2 linked regions of the Homo sapiens genome follow. The protein of the gene in region 1 purifies or fractionates together with the protein of each later gene. This does not show direct contact. Each region holds a gene or a part of one and is shown on either strand. Other genes may lie near its edges. The genes, in order: CHN2 and MGA.

The links.
Region 2: the proteins of CHN2 (region 1) and MGA purify together in Homo sapiens (affinity purification with mass spectrometry, with the first as the bait; one large-scale study listed by BioGRID). This does not show direct contact.

Annotation. Positions count from the first base shown.
Region 1 is NC_000007.14:29,509,230-29,513,054, reverse strand, and holds part of CHN2 (beta-chimaerin), read right to left. Parts: intron 3,755-3,825; coding exon 3,649-3,754; intron 2,871-3,648; exon of another isoform or gene 492-2,870; coding exon 320-491; 3' UTR 1-319.
Region 2 is NC_000015.10:41,666,820-41,670,644, forward strand, and holds part of MGA (MAX gene-associated protein), read left to right. Parts: intron 1-2,008; 5' UTR 2,009-2,075; coding exon 2,076-3,139; intron 3,140-3,825. UniProt on the Homo sapiens protein: Functions as a dual-specificity transcription factor, regulating the expression of both MAX-network and T-box family target genes. Functions as a repressor or an activator.

The sequences.
Region 1 (3,825 bases):
CCAATAAGACTGAAGTTTAAAGGTCTACATTGTTTTTTAATAAATTAAAGATGTATTAATCACTCTTCCAGCAAACCAGACATACATAGGAGGCACAGCAAAAGACCCAAGGTGAGGGGCTTCCCTCACCTTCACCCTTGTTCTCACGTGGAGGTGGCGCATGTCTATGAGACACAGTACCCCACTCAGCGATCCTCTGCAGTCCAGGAAATTCTAGCACTTGCTTGGAAAACAAATCAAGTGGTAAGAAATGTTTTTATTCCTTTAGCTGTGTCAACTTGGATGGTGCTGGGGCCATTCAGCTCATTTCCCTGATGGATTAGAATAAAACGTCTTCGTTTTCTATTAAAATCTGCACAATCAGCTTTTGGTACCGCATATCATGCAGGGTGGTCAGGGTGCTGTCCTCAGGGGGCCTCATCAGAGTGGGCCCAAACACGATCCCCAGATTTTCTGCATTCATGAAATTGTCTTTTTCATTCATAGTAACCCTGCAAAACAAACATATAGAACAGAGACATTATGGAGACTTGAGGATTGATTTTATGTATTGATTATGTATGTAAGTCCCGATAACATCTCTGGTTCAGGAAATTGCAAGAAAAAGATTGGGAATCAGAACAGCAGAAAGGTATTTTTGGAAGGGTAATTTACTGATTTTTCGTTTTAAATTGTTGACATTGCCTTCGCCGGTGGAAATGAATTACTTATGTGAATCTGGCAGGAACACAATTTTTAAAATTAGAAAATTAGTCCTCCTTATTAAGTAAATGTGGAACTATCATTTGAGGAATACTGGTTTGTAGGGGCAGCAGATTCTGAGGCTGGCCCATGGTCCTTTCATAGGCCTTATACAGAAGGCGTTTTTTTTTTCCCTCTTGTGGCTTCCTGCTGGTCTGTATGCTGGAGAGTGGGAAGGGAAGGGCAGGATCCCTCTCTGCTGGGAGGACCGGTGCCAGAGGAGAAAGGTTATGTGTAGAATGGGCTGTCATGAATTGAGGAAGAGTCAGGCCGTTATCGTGGGGTGGGGGAACGGCTGGAATGTCGCCAGACTGGACGGCAGTTGGACATTATTTCTAGTTCCCACAGGATGAGGTCTACAGCAGTTGAAATTAAAAATCATTTCGACATCCAGGTAAGAACTGCAGAGCCTTTAAGAATAAAATTCAAACTGCAAAGCTGGTTTAACACCTTCCTCATGGAATAAAATTACAATCTATCTATCTCCCAGAGTTTTGTTTTCACAACTTTAAGTTTTAGAATGTTCATAATAGATGTAAAAGGGAATGGGTTCTCCAAAAATGAGCAAAATATAATTAAAATGTGTTTAGGAAAATATAATTAAAATGTGTTTAGGTTGTGCATAAAAAGCCATCCCTTTCTATTTCCTTATAACTCATTAGGATTAGCCATTGAGTATTATTTTAAGGTCAACCCAGTTTGTGTCATGTACATGCCACAAAGCCTAAGAAGAAGGTTGGAAAGAGGACGTTTCTCACCATCAAAGTGCCCACAGTTTCCTCTTAAGTCAGGCACTATGCCTGACTAAACAAGATGGCTGGCAAACCCACTATGATAAAGATACAGTATTATTGGCATTTAAGGTTCAGCTGAAAGGTGTCAGCATTTTTCTGGTAGTGGTACTTTGCCTTCCAAACTGTAACAACTGGATATTGATCACAATAAGTATTTTACAGCTAATTGAAAGCCAGATGTGATACCCATAGTTTATTATCTAAAAATTACTTGCACTCCTAAATTCAGTAAATTAATCAGAATGGGAATATTCTGAGCTAAATGTTACCATCACCCTGAATCTGAGCAACAATATTGTATGTCTTCTTGTATGTCTTATAAGGTAGAAAAATAAAAATCTCAATACCTACTGTTTATACAGTCCTCCGTTTGCTTCTTTTCACATACTAAGTAGATCTGTAAACTGGTCAATGTAGACAATTTTCGGTTCATTTTATTTTTATCAAAGAATGGGCTGCTGCCAAGTATCTTTCAAAAACACAGAGGCACACAGATGTGCCCTGATCCCTCCAATGTTATAACACCAATTCATCGACCTCATTACACATGTGCAGTGAAAGAGAGAGACACAAGGTTTAGGGAGAATAGTGTCACCAGAGGTTCTAGTGTCCCATAAACATCCAGACGTCTCCATCTCTGTCTCCCACACACTCACGCAGACAGCTGTGTGTGTGGCAGGTACTCTCTGAGATGGACCTCAGCGATCCATGCCTCCTGGAATTCATACCCTGCATCCCTTCCCCTAAAGTATGGGATGGACTTGATTTGCTTCTAACAGATAAAACACGGTAAAAGCAATAGGATGTCACTTCTGAGATTAGCTTACAAAAAGACTGTCTCTCATATTGGGTGCTCTTGCTTTTTTGTTCTGAGAGAAGCCTGTTGGCTTTTTGTGAGCTGCCTATGGAGAAATGCACATGGCAAGGAACTGAGGGTTGCCTCCAGCAAACTGCTGGTGAGGGAGTGAGGCCTTCAGTCCAACAGCCTTTAAGGAACTGAATCCTGCCAACAACCATGTGAGTGGGCTTGGAGATGGATGCTACCACCATCAAGCCTTCAGGAGTGAATTTTTTTGTTCTTGAGACAGCGTCTCATTCTGTTGCCCAGGATGGAGTACAGTGGTGCCATCTTCGCTCACTGCAGCCTTCGTCTCCCGGGTTCAAGCAATTCTCCTGTCTCAGCCTCCCAAGTAGCTGGGATTACAGACCCATCAAGCCTTCAGATAAGACTGCAGCCTCATTACAGACCTTGAACTGGAGGCAGCCAGCTGAGTCACACCTGGATTCCTGACCCTTAGAAACTATGAGATAATAAATGTTTACAGTTTTAAGCCACTAAGTTTCGGGAGCAATTTGTTACTCAATGAGAGAGAACTCACACATCCAGAAAAATAAGAGACCAGGCTGGGAATGTGCTCTCCCAGGAGGCAGGCAGTCTCAGGAGCCTGGAAAGGGGCAAGCAACAGGGGGATGAACAGGACACAGAGTACAGGGCTTGTGTCAGATGAAGATGCAGACACGGAGGCAGAGTAGTTAAAGGCTGTACATCAGCCTGCCTGGGATCCTGCCTTCACCTCTTCAAATCAGCTGTGTAACCTCCCCAGGCATCAGCAATCTCACAAGTGACACAAGGCCCCTAATGGCACCCCTTTCTTTTTCTTTTTTTTTTTTTTTTGAGATGGAGTCTCGCTCTGTTGCCCAGGCTGGAGTGCAGTGGCACGATCTCGGCTCACTGCCAGCTCTGCCTCCTGGGTTCACACCATTCTCCTGCCTCAGCCTCCCAAGTGGCTGGGACTACAGGCGGCTGCCACCACGCCCGGCTAATTTTTTTGTATTTTTAGTAGAGACAGGGTTTCACCGTGTTAGCCAGGATGGTCTCAATCTCCTGACCTCATGATCCGCCCACCTCGGCCTCCCAAAGTGCTGGGATTACAGGCGTGAGCCATCACAGTGGCGCCCCTTTCATAGGGATGATACACTGAAAGTGCCTGGAGTGGTTCCTGGCACAGTGAAACTCCAGCAGTTATGGCTGGGGAGGAATGCCGTCCACTTTTCCTCATGCATTAACCGCTCTAGGAGCAGAGCAGGCTTTGTGCACGAGACATGAGCTTACTTTTTGAGGTGGATCATTAGGTACCGGAGGGTTTCATAGTGGGCAGGAGGCAGCAGCATCAGCACTTCATGGACGGCTTCCAGCCTCTCATCTGCATTGGAGATTTCTGTGAAGTTCACGCATGATGGGTATTAGTTCAGAGTGTGGCATTCAAGTTTTCAGAGAAGTAACAAGAAG
Region 2 (3,825 bases), on another chromosome or scaffold:
ATCTTGTATAGATATCATTTATCACAGGTGTGTGTATTTAAAATAAAGTCCTATAGTGGGTTTTAACAGTGAATTAAGAAAACTTAAAGTCCTGGGAACAATTCTTTGTCATAGGATGATATATGGATTTGTACTTTTGATATTTTCAAGTTGCCCTCTCTTAGAGATTCTATTATTTTATACTCCCAGTAACTGCTTAGGGGAGAATGCTGGTTGACCTAACCCTTTCCAGCACTACCAGGCTTTGATTTTTGCCAGTCTGATAAGTAAAAAAACAGTATCTCAAGATGACTTTAATTTGCTTTCCTCTTAACTATGTACATATTCATAGCCATTTGCGTTTATTATCCTTTACTCATTTTTCTGTTAGGTATTTGGTCTTGTTGATTTGTAGGAAGCCTTTAAAAATTATTATTACTGTTAATGTATTTTTATTTTTTTTTTTGAGTCAGAGTCTCGCTCTGTCACCCAGGCTGAAGTGCAGTGGTGCCATCTTGGCTCGCTGCAACTCCACCTCCTGGGTTCAAGCAATTCTCTTGTCTTAGCCTCCCGAGTACCTGGGATTATGGGCGCACACCACCATGCCTAGCTAATTTTTTTATTTTTAGTAGAGACAGGGTTTCACCATGTTGGCCAGGCTGGTCTTGAGCTCCTGACCTCAAGTGATCTGACCTCCTTGGCCTCCCAGAGTGCTTGGATTACAGGCGTGAGCCACTGCTCCCCCGCCGCTATTATTTTTTAATAGAGACGGACTTTCACTACGTTGGACAGGCTGGTCTGGGACTCCTGACTTCAAGCAATCCTCCTGCCTTGGCCTCCCAAAGTGCTGGGATTATAGGTGTGAGTCACCATGTCCAGCCCCCTTTTTATATTAGGGAAAGGAGTTCTTTATAAGTTGCAAATACCTTTTCCTGGTTAGTTTGCTTTTTGATTTTGCTTAAATGATTTTGCCAGATTAAAAAATTTACAGAATATTAAATTTTATTTTATTTTTATTTCTTTGAGACGGAGTCTTTCCCTGTCACCCAGGCTGGAGTGCAGTGGCGTGATCTTGGCTCAGTGCACCTTCTGCCTCCTAGGATCAAGTGATTCTCATGCCTCAGCCTCCTGAGTAGCTGGGACTACAGGCGTGCACCACCACACCAGGCTAATTTTTTAATTTTTAATAGAGATGGGGTTTCGCCATGTTGGCCAGGCTAGTCTCGAATTCCTGGCTTTAAATGATCCACTGGCCTCAGCCTCTCAAAGTGCTGGGATTGCAGGTGTGAGCCACCACACCTGGCATCATATAGTATTAAATTTATCACTTTTTTTTTTTTTGGCCTTACTGGTTTTAGATTTTGTGTCTTATCAAAAAACTTTTCTCAGGATTTAGGAATAAAAAAATTAAATATTAGAGTCATCTGGAATTTATTTCAGTGTAAGGTCCATTGAGTTCCAGTGATTTGTCATGGCTTCTTTAAACGTGTGTACTAAGAAGTTAGATAGCTTTTTACTTATTTATGGAACCATGTCTTCTGAACCATATGAAGAACTAATTCTGTACAATTAGCTCTTTGGGATGAAAATGGAACTTTACTTATTTAATTTACTCATCACTGGGGAACTTGCTATATAAAGGAATCTTCTGGTAAATTCATAAAGTGTTAGGATGCTTTAAAAATGCATAACCTTCAAATTTAACTTTTTAATTTTGTATACTTTTTTAATAATGAATATACTCTTTTGTTTCTTTGTGTGAGATTATAGTATTTATAGTGAATTGTTAGAGGATTAGGATATAAGCACCTTAACTAATTAGATTAAAATGAACTTTAAAAAATGATTAGATATTCCAGAGTAAATATTCTTACTGTGATTGAAAGAAAAGCTTAGAAGCAAAGTCTTAGAAGAATTTAGGAATATTTTGGGGATAACATAATCGTTCTTGTATTTTTGTTCAAGAAATAAATACTCACTTGATTAAAGGGTGTTTTTTGTTTTTGGTTTTTTTTTGCTTGTTTCTTAGGATGGGAAGGCCATTGTGACTATGTGGTGATTACAGTTGTCTTACTACTGAGTTTCCTACTGAAATCATGGAGGAGAAACAGCAGATTATATTGGCTAATCAAGATGGTGGAACAGTGGCAGGAGCAGCACCTACCTTCTTTGTCATCTTAAAGCAGCCAGGAAATGGCAAAACTGATCAAGGAATTTTGGTTACTAATCAGGATGCCTGTGCTTTGGCTAGTAGTGTGTCATCACCAGTAAAATCTAAAGGGAAGATTTGCCTTCCAGCTGATTGTACTGTGGGTGGAATCACTGTTACCCTCGATAACAATAGTATGTGGAATGAGTTCTATCATCGAAGCACAGAGATGATTCTGACCAAGCAAGGAAGACGCATGTTTCCTTACTGTCGTTATTGGATAACAGGTTTAGATTCAAATTTGAAGTATATTCTTGTCATGGATATATCTCCTGTGGATAACCATCGTTATAAGTGGAATGGTCGTTGGTGGGAACCTAGTGGGAAGGCTGAACCTCATGTTTTGGGGAGGGTTTTCATTCATCCAGAATCTCCTTCCACAGGTCATTATTGGATGCATCAACCAGTATCTTTCTATAAACTCAAACTTACCAACAATACACTGGACCAAGAAGGGCATATCATCTTGCACTCTATGCATCGTTACCTGCCGAGGCTTCATTTGGTGCCTGCAGAAAAGGCTGTGGAGGTGATACAATTAAATGGCCCTGGTGTCCACACTTTTACCTTCCCACAGACTGAATTCTTTGCAGTAACAGCTTATCAGAACATTCAGATTACTCAGCTGAAAATAGATTACAATCCATTTGCCAAAGGCTTTCGGGATGATGGGCTGAATAATAAGCCCCAGAGAGATGGAAAACAAAAGAACAGCTCTGACCAAGAAGGGAATAATATTTCCAGTTCTTCTGGTCATCGGGTCCGTCTTACAGAAGGTCAGGGGTCAGAGATACAACCAGGTGATTTGGATCCTTTGTCAAGGGGTCATGAAACATCAGGCAAGGGTTTGGAGAAGACTTCCCTTAATATAAAACGAGACTTTCTTGGTTTCATGGATACTGATTCAGCACTTAGTGAAGTTCCTCAATTGAAGCAAGAGATTTCTGAATGGTAAGTAGTAGTTTTTCTGTTCTTAGAAATAAAAGGAAGATTGAGATGGGCCAGGTGTTGGATTTAACATCTTGGTTCTGTGGAATGCTACAGATGTTGATAAATGTAAGCCACTATAAAATATACTACAACTGCTTTTACATTCTGTGAAGTGACATCATTTTTCTGTAATGAGAATCAGTTGGGTTCAGGATCTAGAATTGTAGGCAAATTGGATAACTTATCAGAATTATTCATATGTATTTAGAATGTTCCTTGATATCCTTGGGGGATTGGTTCCAGGACCACCCAAGAATACCAACACCTGACTACATTTGAGACTCCATCTCAATAAAAAAAAGAAAATCATACCAATTATGACAACATAGATGAGCCTAGAGAATACTATGCTAAGTGAAATAGGCAAAACAAAAAAAGACAAATACTGCAAAATATTCATAAAAGTAGAAAGTAGAATGGTGGATGCCAGGGGGTAGAGAGAGACTGAAAGATGTTGGTCAAAGGGTACAAAGCTTCAGTTATGCCAGGTAAATTTTAAAGAAAGAGTAAGCATACTATTTTTTTTGAGATGGAGTCTCGCTCTGTCGCCCAGGCTGGAGTGCAGTGGCATGATCTCCGCTCACTGCAAGCTCCGCCTCCTGGGTTCACGCCATTCTCCTGCCTCAGCCTCCCAAGTAGCTGGGACT